Regions from separate parts of the Homo sapiens genome. Here region 2 is linked to region 1. Evidence: fine-mapped expression QTL. A gene starts in region 1. The other region holds a variant in brackets. All regions are shown on one strand. Distances are from middle to middle. Region 1 holds the start of C10orf105 (chromosome 10 open reading frame 105). Region 2 overlaps CDH23 (cadherin related 23).

Region 1 (5,000 bases):
CATGGCCTTGCCACCCCTCTGGCCCCCAGCCCTTTCGGAGCTCAGTGAGCTGCTCTGGGAACAGGTGGGAAATAAACCCACAAGGAGTTGACAAGGGGGCTGGAAACCCCCCAGGGACATCATACACCTGACAGGGCATTTCCTTTCCCACTGAAGATCATCCCATTAGACGCAGTGCAGCAGACGGTCCTTGTCGATGGAAAACCAGGCTGAGCTTTTGGCTCAATATGTCTGGGGTTGTAATAAAAATGCTCACAGATCCTGGCCAGCAGATAACACATGACCAGAGGGTACAGATGAGCAGGGCCACCTGGAGAGCACTGGCTGGGCCCTCTCAAGGAAGTGGAGGGGCCTCAGCCCAGAATGGTGCTGTCAGTGCCGGAGTGCAGGCCCAGTGTGGTCAGCTCTGTCAGTTTCCCAAGAGAAGCCAGAAATCTGGATTTTTTTAAAGGCAAACATTCTAGACGTTTAAATGTTGGCAGCTAATTCAAATTTGTTGAAGGCAAGAAAGAAGAGAGGTGGGGTGGGGGAGAACACAGCAAAAGCCAAATAAACTTGATTTCAAAATAATGTGAAATGAATTTTCAAATATTTGAAACACTACACAGGCCAAACCAAACACATAAGCAGAGGACGTCCAGCTTGCAGGTCAGCATGTGTGATATTTAAATTCTACTGACGTGGACAAGCAATCCCAGGGGGTCTGATAAAAAGTCATGATTTCCCTTTAACCTTGGGGTCTTTCCTTTTCATGAGGGTGGGGGATAGCAGATTTTCCTCCTTCCCAGCTTGCAGCTTAGATAACAGTTGAGTTTCTAGCACGGAAGCTCAGGAGGAGGAAAGATGTCAGGTCACGCTCAGAGAAACCCTGCCACAGGTAGTGGGGAGGGGAGTGGGCCACCTAGTTCCCCACCCGAGGGACTCCTGTCCCTACCCCAGGCACTCACCAGCAGCCGCAGGACCTCACTCCTGGCTCCCTGCGCCCAGCCAACTGAGGGCATGCAGAGCACCCCACCTCCCACCCATTCCCCACCACCACCCCTCCCAGCACTTCCAGGCAGAAAACGACCCCTCCCAGTGCCTGGCTGGAAAGTGTGATGCCCGTCTAGCTGCCCAGGGCCTCCGCCTTTGCGGCATCAGGCCTAGAGAGCACTCTGGCTGGGCAGCTGTGCATGGGTTGGCCTTTCCTTGAGTCTGAGCAGGGAGGAGGGATGGGGTGTGCCCACCGCTCATTCCCGTGGGGAGAAAATCAGCCATCCCTCTCTCCTACCCTGGACAATGCTTGGCCAGGAGTAAGAAAAGGGCAGTCTGAAATGGGAGATGCCTCAATCCTACTAGTTCTAATGTTATTTCAAGGCCTTCAAAGGAATCTGGAGACCCTACTGGGCTAGCAAATAGGATCCAGGCTTCAGGCCTTGGGACCTGCTTTAATTTAAAAAATAAGTGAGGCCAGGCGTGTTGGCTCTCACCTGTAATCCCAGCACTTTGGGAGGCCAAGGCAGGAGGATCACTTGAGCCCAGGAGTTTGAGAACAGCCTGGGCAACATAGTGAGTCTTCATTTCTGAAAGAAAAAAAAAAAAGGTTTTTTAATTAGCCAGGTGTGGTAGTATGTGCCTGTGGCCCCAGCTACTCAGGAGGCTGAGGCAGAAGGATCATTTGAGCCCAAAAGTTTGAGGCTACAGCGAGCTAGAATCATGCCACTGCGCTACAGCCTGAGCGACAGAGCAACACTCTGTCTCAAAAAAATAAAAAATAAAAAAAAAATAAGTGGAGTTGTAATTAGCATCTGAGTAGTTCCTGTGGCAACGAGAGATTCCTAAGTGCTTGAAAACAACACAACACCCTTCCTGGAGCACGAGGCAAGTCCAGCTGCCAGGCCCCTTGACACCCGGCTACTGACCAACCAGCAAAGGCCAGCTAGTACTGGGAGAGGATGCCTTGCCCGGACCAAGGCCAGGAATCATCTGGAGGGCAGTTGAAGCCACTCCCTTCCCACTGGGGCCAGGGTGCACCAGCGGGCCCTGCTCTGGACATATCTCTGCAAGCTCAGTCTAGGACCCTCCTCTTCCCTTGGAGTTCCACAGAGCAGGACCTGCTGTGGGCAGAGAAGACTGCTGTGTGGCCTCGGGCTAGTCCCTACCCCTTACTGGGCCTTGTTTCCCCTCTCTACAGAACCAGAGGACTGCCTAGGTCTGAGCATACCCTCACATTCTCCCAGGAGTCCCCAGCAAGGGTCTCCACCACACTTCCCTCTCCAAGCCTTCTCCTGCAGTCCCCCAAGCACTGACCTCAGAGCCAGACCCCAGCCGTCCGGAGCTCCGTGGAGAGGTCTTCTCAGCTGTGGAAGGGAGGCCCAAGGAGCCCTGGGCAGTGCCTGTGACCCCAGCCCTGCCAGGCTCTGCTGTGCCCTGCAGCCCTCGGTCAGCCTGGCCAGCAGAGTGGCCTCCCCGTCACTCCCCAGCTGGACCTGGCTTTGTCTAGAAGAGTTTGGGCCCTGCCTTGGGGGAGGGGATAGCTAAGGGAGTAGGGATGGCAACTGGGTTGGGAAGAGGGAGAGGGGAGCTGTCCAGAGACTCTGGGATGCCCCCTGGCCTTCCCACCGCCTCTCTCCAGCCTGTCTCCTTGGAGCCCTCTCAGGGGTGGAAGACTCTGGGGAGACGCAGGGGGAGGGTTTTACTGCCTCTGCGGCCCCATGGCGCTCACCTTCCCCTGTCGGAAGTTTGAATGGTATGGTCGGCGGCAGCCAGAGGTTCGCTATTCAGTGCCTGCCAGCCACCAGGTTACCCTGGAGAGGGGCTACAAGCCATGGCAGGAGGGGAGCAGGGAGAGTGCTGGTCCCTGGCAGCCCCTGAGGCCCCTCCTGCAGCGTCCCTGGGCCCCATTCCTTCCAGGCTTTTCCCTCAGCTTGTAGAAAAGCACCTTCCCTTTGAAGGTGTCTGGCTACAGAAGCGAGGGGTGAGGGGCATCTTCAAAGGTCAGGGGGATCCCAGGGCAGAAAGCATAGGACTGACGGACCTCCAAGGCCATGCTCCCCACAGTGCGGGTGGGCCACGGGAGACCTCCACTGGAGGCTCTTTCCAAAACACACACACACACACACACACACACACACTTCCCTCCCCCAGCCTTCTTTCTCCCCAGAAGCCAGAGCTTCCCTGACAACCAGCTGCCTGCTTAGGAGCCCAAGTCTTTGGCAGCTTCCCCACCAGGGACCTCCAAGCTCCCAGAAATGCAACTCAAGACAGGAGTCATGGCCCTGTCCAAGACCTGAGCCTCAGACCCATTCCCTTTTTTGGAGCCCCAGTTTCTGGTTTTTAGCTGTTCCCTCCTGCCCTTGCCCATAAAAAGAGGCACTGTCTGCCAACCCCAAGATGGACAAGAGATTTCCTATGGACTGTTAAAGCTGGAGAGGTCCTCAGGGGTCATCTAACTCCTCTTCTGAGAGAAAAGAGCCCCCGTCTTCTCTCAGATGACCAAACTGAGGCCCAGAGAGGTGTGACCTGCCCAGGGGCACCCAGCAAGTGAGTGGTGGGGGACTTGGTGTTTCCCCTGTGCTGGGTGGGCAGGGGCAGGCAGTAGGCATCCAGGGTAGGCAAAGCATCCGGCCCAAAGGTGTTTTCAATGCCCAGAGTCCCCATTGGGATTCCTGCACCTTCCATCACAGCATTCACTGCCTTCATTTTCCTTAACTTCCTCTCCTGAAACCAACTGAACACTTCATCTGTGGCCCCCATTCCTCCTGAGATGACAGAAGACAAAGCTTCCAGGGTGGTGCAGGCTGCTGGAGCAGGGAGGCATCAAGGAAATCTCACCATGGATAGGCATGCAAGGGCATGCTCTGGGCAACGTGGCTCTCTTCACCATCCTGAGCCCTTCCAGATCTGGACAATTGAAGCACCCTGTTACATCCCTCCACCTGCCAGCTCCTAAGGTTTCTCAGGGAATGGAGAGAGAAAGAACTGCACGGCAAGGGGCAATCCAGCCATCCCCAGCTCTGGCATAAATCCAGAGGGCTCTCTGGAGAAGGTGGCATCACTCATGTTGACCTTCACCACACATCCCCATGCTAGGCACCAGCCAAGACGCTTTGCAAGATGACTTCTGATCTTCCCCTCAACCCTGCAAGGCTGGTCATCATTGTGCCCAGTCTAGAGATGAGAAAACTGAGGCTCAAGGGGGCTAAAGTACTTATCCATAGTGCCATAGAGAGTAAGTGACAAAGCCTAAATTCATGCTTGGGTGTGCCTGACCCAGGGCCCTTGTTCTTTTTGCTCCAGTGTACTCGTCCTCCTCCCCACCATCAACATGCTCATCAGAATCCTTAGACACACTTACCGCAGTGCCCGGATGTGCATCGAGGCCAGCGCCTGCTACAGGCTCCTCGCTCTGCCTTCATACCACCATGTCTATACTCCCTGTCCTGTGGAGGTTCCAGGGCATCAGTGCTGCTGATTGAGGCTGTCATTCCACTCTTCCAACCACAGCCCTCTGCTGTCCCTGCATGAGCCCTTCACTCCAGACTGGGGTCCTAGTTCCTTCCTTAGCCTCCCCAGCTGCCTCTACTTCAGCTAACACTGTTTCCCAGCACAAATGTTCTTCCCAACCTTCTCTGCTAAGCCAGGTTTCCTCCATCCTTCCAAACCCAGCTCCCTCCTTTGGAAACCTTCAGCCAATCCCACCTTCACTGCTTTCTTGATCTTTGCTAGCAGGAACCCATCCCCATCTTCTCTGCAGTTTTGTCCAGTGAGCAACGATAGGAAAGCCTACATTAGGGCTTCGGGTGGCAAGAAAGAAAATCCATTCTATATTATCTTAGGCAGGGCCAGACATGGTGGCTCATGCCTGTAATCCCACCACTTTGGGAAGCCAAGGCGGGAGGATTGCTTGAGCTCAGGAGTTCGAGACCAGCCTGGGCAATATAGCAAGACCCTGTCTCTACAAAAAAAATAATAATAATCTAGGCAGAAGGAGAAGTGTACTGTAGCAATACTGGGATACC
Region 2 (5,000 bases), 30 kb after region 1:
TCCCTCTCCCGTGCCCAAGGCAGACATGGCTATCTATCTCGGCACTGTCTCACCAAGCTATATTGATCATTCAGAATCCCTCTCAACACATTCCAGGATAGTTAGGGTGACATAGCCTCCATGGGGTGAAGAGAAGCAGCAATGCAAAGCAGGGAATGCCCAGGGAATGGGCCAGGTGGCCTGTGCCGTCTATGGGCTGGGCCTCATGCTCAGCTGGGCTGTGGCTGGGCTTCAAGAGGCCTTTGTTCCCAGCATCCTGGTTAGCAACCCCAGTTCCTCTTTCGTGCATTGTGGTTCCCTGAGAAAACGTTAACCCAGCCCCCAGCACAGTCAGGCCAGCCCTGGGGAAGGCCTCATTCATGAGGCAGGACCCCAGGGGCCAAGTTGGTGCTCGGTGGTGGCAGGACCCCTGCAGCCCCCTGTCCCACTGCACACTCCCAAGTCCACCCCGCGAGGAGCACCCCCTGAAAAAGGCCATGTATCAGCCCCTCTGCCCTGGGCCACTGCATGTAGTGGGAGCTCTGGTCAGGCAGAAGTCTTTTGAAAAGCAGGTCCTGGGGCTCCTGCACCTCCACCCCAGCGCCCATCGCCACGGACTCCCCCAGGCAGGGCCAGCCTGCCCACCAGCAGTCACCAGTGGCCTCCATGGTGTGTTTTTAGGGAGTGCTGAGCAGTCCCCGCTGTGTCAGCAAAACCCTCCAAATGGTGCTTTCAATTCCATTCCTTCAGCCTCTCCCTGGGAGGGAATAAAGGCAGGAAGTCTCTATTAAACTGTGAATGTCAGGAGATAGGTAAGATGGCCCCTAATTCCTGATTGATCTCCTAACAATGAATTAGTTCTTAAAAGCATGGATTTCCCTCTCAGGGCCTCAGACTGTGCCACGAATCCAGCGCTCCAGGAGCCTCCTGCCCCAGCCCCTAGTGCTCCTCCCGCCCCCTGGAGGCGCCATGTTCTCGCACCCAGCTCTCCCATGCACCCCAGCCCACAGCCACCAGGGCTGGCATCAGAGGCACTACCATCCCGGGCAACTCAGAGGGCGGCTCCAGCAGCCTGCCCCTCCCCAGCAGCAGCAGGGAGGGACGTCCCTAGTGCGTTGTAGGCAGGGCCTGTGGCCATGGATGAAGATGGAACTGGGAGCTCAGAGTAAATTTCGCTGAAAACAGGAAACCACGAAGCCCAGATGCGTTCAGTTGTAAAAGGGTCCAGAGAAGAGAGGGCAGGGCCGCACCAGAGGAAGCTGAGGAGGAAGTGCGGTGGCTGTTCTGCTGCGGGCCGCCTCCCTCTCCACACAGCAGCAGCCAGGCCTGGGGTCTGGCAGCCAAATTCTTAGAAGTTGTCTCTGCCTCAAGGTCAGCAGCTGAGGGCTGGGGCCAGGCCAGCCTCCCCAGAGGGCAGGGCATGCTCTTCCTGAGTTGGGAGAACCGGAATCTGGGCTGTGGGCTTGTCCTTCGACTCCAGGAACAGCAGGTGTCCTGTCCCCACTCCTGCCATGCAGGCCCCCATGAATTGTGAAAAACATACCCTCTTTCCTTCTTTCTTTCTTTTTAAAATTTGTTTTGAGGCAAAGTTTTGCTCCGTCCCCAGGCTGGAGTGTAGTGGCTCGAACACAGCTCACAGCAGCCTTGAACACCTGGGCTTAAGCGGTCCTTCCACCTCAGCCCTGCAAAGTGCTGGGAGGACAGGTGTGTGCCACCATGGCCAGCCAGCACCCTCTTCCTATGGCAGCTGGCATCAAGCATTGTGGTGACCAGAGGGAACAAAAGAAGGGACCCCCCTCTGCCTAGGGACAAGGGAGAAGCCGGGGTTTGGGCATATTCTGGCCACTCGAGGTGTCAGCCCCATCTCCGGGCCTATGTTTACCCTCTCCTCAAAGCCCCTGGCCCAGCCCAGGCAGAGCAGGAGGCCCTCAGTGGACCATTCCTTTGGGCCTAACTGGGGGGCTTAGAAGCAGGGCCATGTGTCCAGGTGGGGTTCCCTGGCTGTAGCCACAGGCCCAGGGCTCACTGCTGCCAGGCAGCCTAGAGGTGCTCCCCTTTTCCATCCCCCCAACCCCCCAAGCAATTGGGCGAACATCTTCCCGCCTAGCCCCAAATCCTGGCTTTCAGCACCCAGGCCCAGCTCAGCAGAGCCAGTGTAGGCTGCTAGGAGACAAATGCCCAGGCTGGACTATGCTCTCCACAGTACCTGGGGCCCCCATCCTGCTAAACGCTACAGGGGGTCTGCCCAGCCCCACCTCACCTGTCCCCATGCTCAGGCACTGCCTTCCCTGTTTTACCCCCAGAGTGTACAGAGATGCCCCCTACTCTCCTCCCCTGCTTTAAAATCCTTCAATCACAATTCCACAGAGGACTCACCTTGCCTATGTGTATAAAAACAAAGCCAGGGCATGCCCACAAGCAGGAGATGGGAACATCACCCGCACCTGGCCGAATGGCTCTGAAGCGAAGACTCCACCAGGCCCAGATTGTATGGAGTGGAAGGTGGGGGTGGGGGAGGAGCAGCAGAGTGCAGATTTAAACTGGCTCTTACAATCCATCTCCAGGGTTTGCACCTGTTTCCCCATGTAGTTTTTAATAGCATCCCGCTTCATACTCAGAAGTGTCCCAGGGTGGACAAGACATTGTGTGGCACCCTTGCAATGGCCCGCGCTGAGCAGTGGGAGTAGGGGATGGGGAGGGCGGGGGGCAGGTGCCCCTCTCCACTCACCTTCCCAGAAGGCCCCACCCACCTCCCTCAGCACCATCTCCAGTGGGTGGGGCAACATCTGTCCTGGCCTCAGATTGCCCAAGACACCATTTGCTCACGGAGGCCACCATGCCCCAATATGTA[C/A]TTCCCGTTTCGGGACCACCAAGCTCTGGGGACTGGAATGCAGGCAGTGGAAGCCCCAGATTGACTTAACCTGTTGACAGATCTTCAGAGAAACTGCTGGTAGGAGGCAGCTGGGGAAGGTGGCGATGGCCAGTGGGCAGGCAGGCCTGGCCCCAGAGCCACTGTGGTACAAAGAGGAAGTCTGACAGAAGAGCAGCCTCGGGCAAAACGGGGGAGCCAAGGCGGCCACGGGGGAGAAGTCTCTCCACCGTGCCCTGTGTCTGGTGCCTGGGAGGGTGGCCCAGTGTCCATCTTGTCCCACTGATGCTGCCACATCCCAAGGCTCATGTCTCAGAACGAGAGCTGCTGAAGGGCTGGACGTTCTGAGACTTCTTAAGATGTAAGTCATTTGGCATCTGTAGCTGGTGAATTTCAGGTCTCTAGGGGAGAATCTCAGCACCCCAAAATCCTTGGAACAGGGGCTGAGCCGTCCAGCATCCCCATGTAGCATCCAGAGGGGTTGAGGGGCTGGGCTTCTGGGATGTCACAGTATCTGAGCCCAGAGCAGGAGGGAGGGAACCAGGGCCGAGGCCAAGGAGGCCACTCACAGAGCCAGCCCTGGCTCAAATGCACCTGCCCCAGACCCAGCCACAACAGCCCACTGTCCCCCAGCTGGGCTAGATGACCTCAAAGTTTGGAGAGTCAGGGACAGGGTCTGCAAGAAAAGGAGAAGCAAAGTGAACGGGGCCCCTCTGCCCCTCACCCTCAACCCCACCCCGTGAGGCCGTGGAACTCTTCAGGGAGGTGAATGGGGGCCCCTCTGTCCCTCACCCTCAACCCCACCCCGTGAGGCCGTGGAACTCTTCAGGGAGGTGAATGGGGGCCCCTCTGTCCCTCACCCTCAACCCCACCCCGTGAGGCCGTGGAACTCTTCAGGGAGGTGAATGGGGGCCCCTCTGTCCCTCACCCTCAACCCCACCCCGTGAGGCCGTGGAACTCTTCAGGGAGGGCAGGGAGTGAGGCCGATGCCCTGCAGGCCATGAGGTCATGACCTTACAGGTCATCGTGCTGTGAAGGTCAGGAAACACTTACCCAGGGATGGGAAGAAGACGTCTCCGGGGCCTGGAGGAGACAGGGGGGTGCTGGGCTCCGAAAGCAGATGCCGCCCAGACTCAGAAGGCTGCCGCTGGGCCACATAGGACAGGGGGTGCCTGACTTTGGCCTCGGGTATCCCCTGGGCAGGTGGTGAGGCTTCAAAGCCGGGGTTTTCAATCCCTTGAATGTTGCTGCCACAGAACCAGAATGGAAGGTCATCTGTGCTGTCCGGAGCGTGAACTCTGCCCTCCCTGCCCCCAGTTTTTCTCTCCTCCCTTTCTCTCACCTACATCCCCATCCCCAAGCCTCAGCAGCATCTCCAAGCAAGAAGGCAGGAGCCAGGCCCACAGAGCAAAGGCCATGGGCTGCACCTGCCCACCTGTCCTGAGCTGAGGGCATCAGGGCCCACCAGAACAGACCCCAGCTCCTCCCTGTGGTCTGACCATCAACCCCGGGCACAGCCAGGAAGCCAAAAATCACAGACACTTCTAGAACTTCAGCCTCAGGAATTTGGGGACAAGTTTCTCTTTGGTCAATAGAGTTGATGGCATTAGGATCGAACATCCCCAAAGCCTGTCTTGAGCTGAGGGGAGGGGTTCTCTTCTCTTCCCAGTTGGGAGTGGGATAACTTCTGAAGACCCCTGCAACTCTTAGATTCTAGATGAGTTGCAAGCAGGACTTCCTTCAACCTGTCTTGAAGATCATCCCTTTCAAACACCTAGAGGAGCTTTGTGTTTGGTGTTGCAGGTACCGGGGCAGGAACTTGGGTTCCCTGAACACACCCTCCAGGCCAGGCTGCATGGCAGCTTCCTGCCCAGAGCACACCAATACACAGTCCCCATCCCCTCTGCCCCTAGACCCAGCCCACTGCACCACTCTGGGACCCCTCAGCCTCTGCCCTTGTGGCCTGCAGCGGCCTAACAGCTTTCTCCTTGGAGTTCTCTGCGGGCAGGAGGCACAGCTCAAGGGCTGTGGCTGGGGCTGGGCCCGCTGGCCTCCTTTGCATGTCTCACTGTCTGCCCCAGACAGTGCTTCCTCCCTGTCCCCATCCTGGCCCAGGCTGACCACTGAGACCCGAAGGTGGGTGCATGACACA

The links.
Region 2: its variant is fine-mapped to the expression of C10orf105 in whole blood (TOPMed, PIP above 0.99).

What each region holds. Positions count from the first base shown.
Region 1 is chr10:71,717,338-71,722,337 of GRCh38, forward strand. It overlaps C10orf105 (chromosome 10 open reading frame 105), which reads right to left and starts at 2,441. Exons shown (of 2, transcript NM_001164375.3): 1 at 2,290-2,441. The region is part of intron 28 of CDH23 (cadherin related 23); the gene reads left to right. RefSeq lists an enhancer at 1,830-2,578.
Region 2 is chr10:71,747,767-71,752,766 of GRCh38, forward strand. The region is part of intron 38 of CDH23 (cadherin related 23); the gene reads left to right. VSIR (V-set immunoregulatory receptor) reads right to left here. Exons shown (of 7, transcript NM_022153.2): 6 at 3,902-4,095; 7 at 1-3,524. The coding sequence ends at 3,487. Among named protein-coding and RNA genes, the nearest start is that of VSIR, 23 kb to the right of the region's middle. RefSeq lists enhancers at 232-441, 827-876, 1,077-1,206. The variant C/A (reference allele first, on the strand shown) is at 2,831.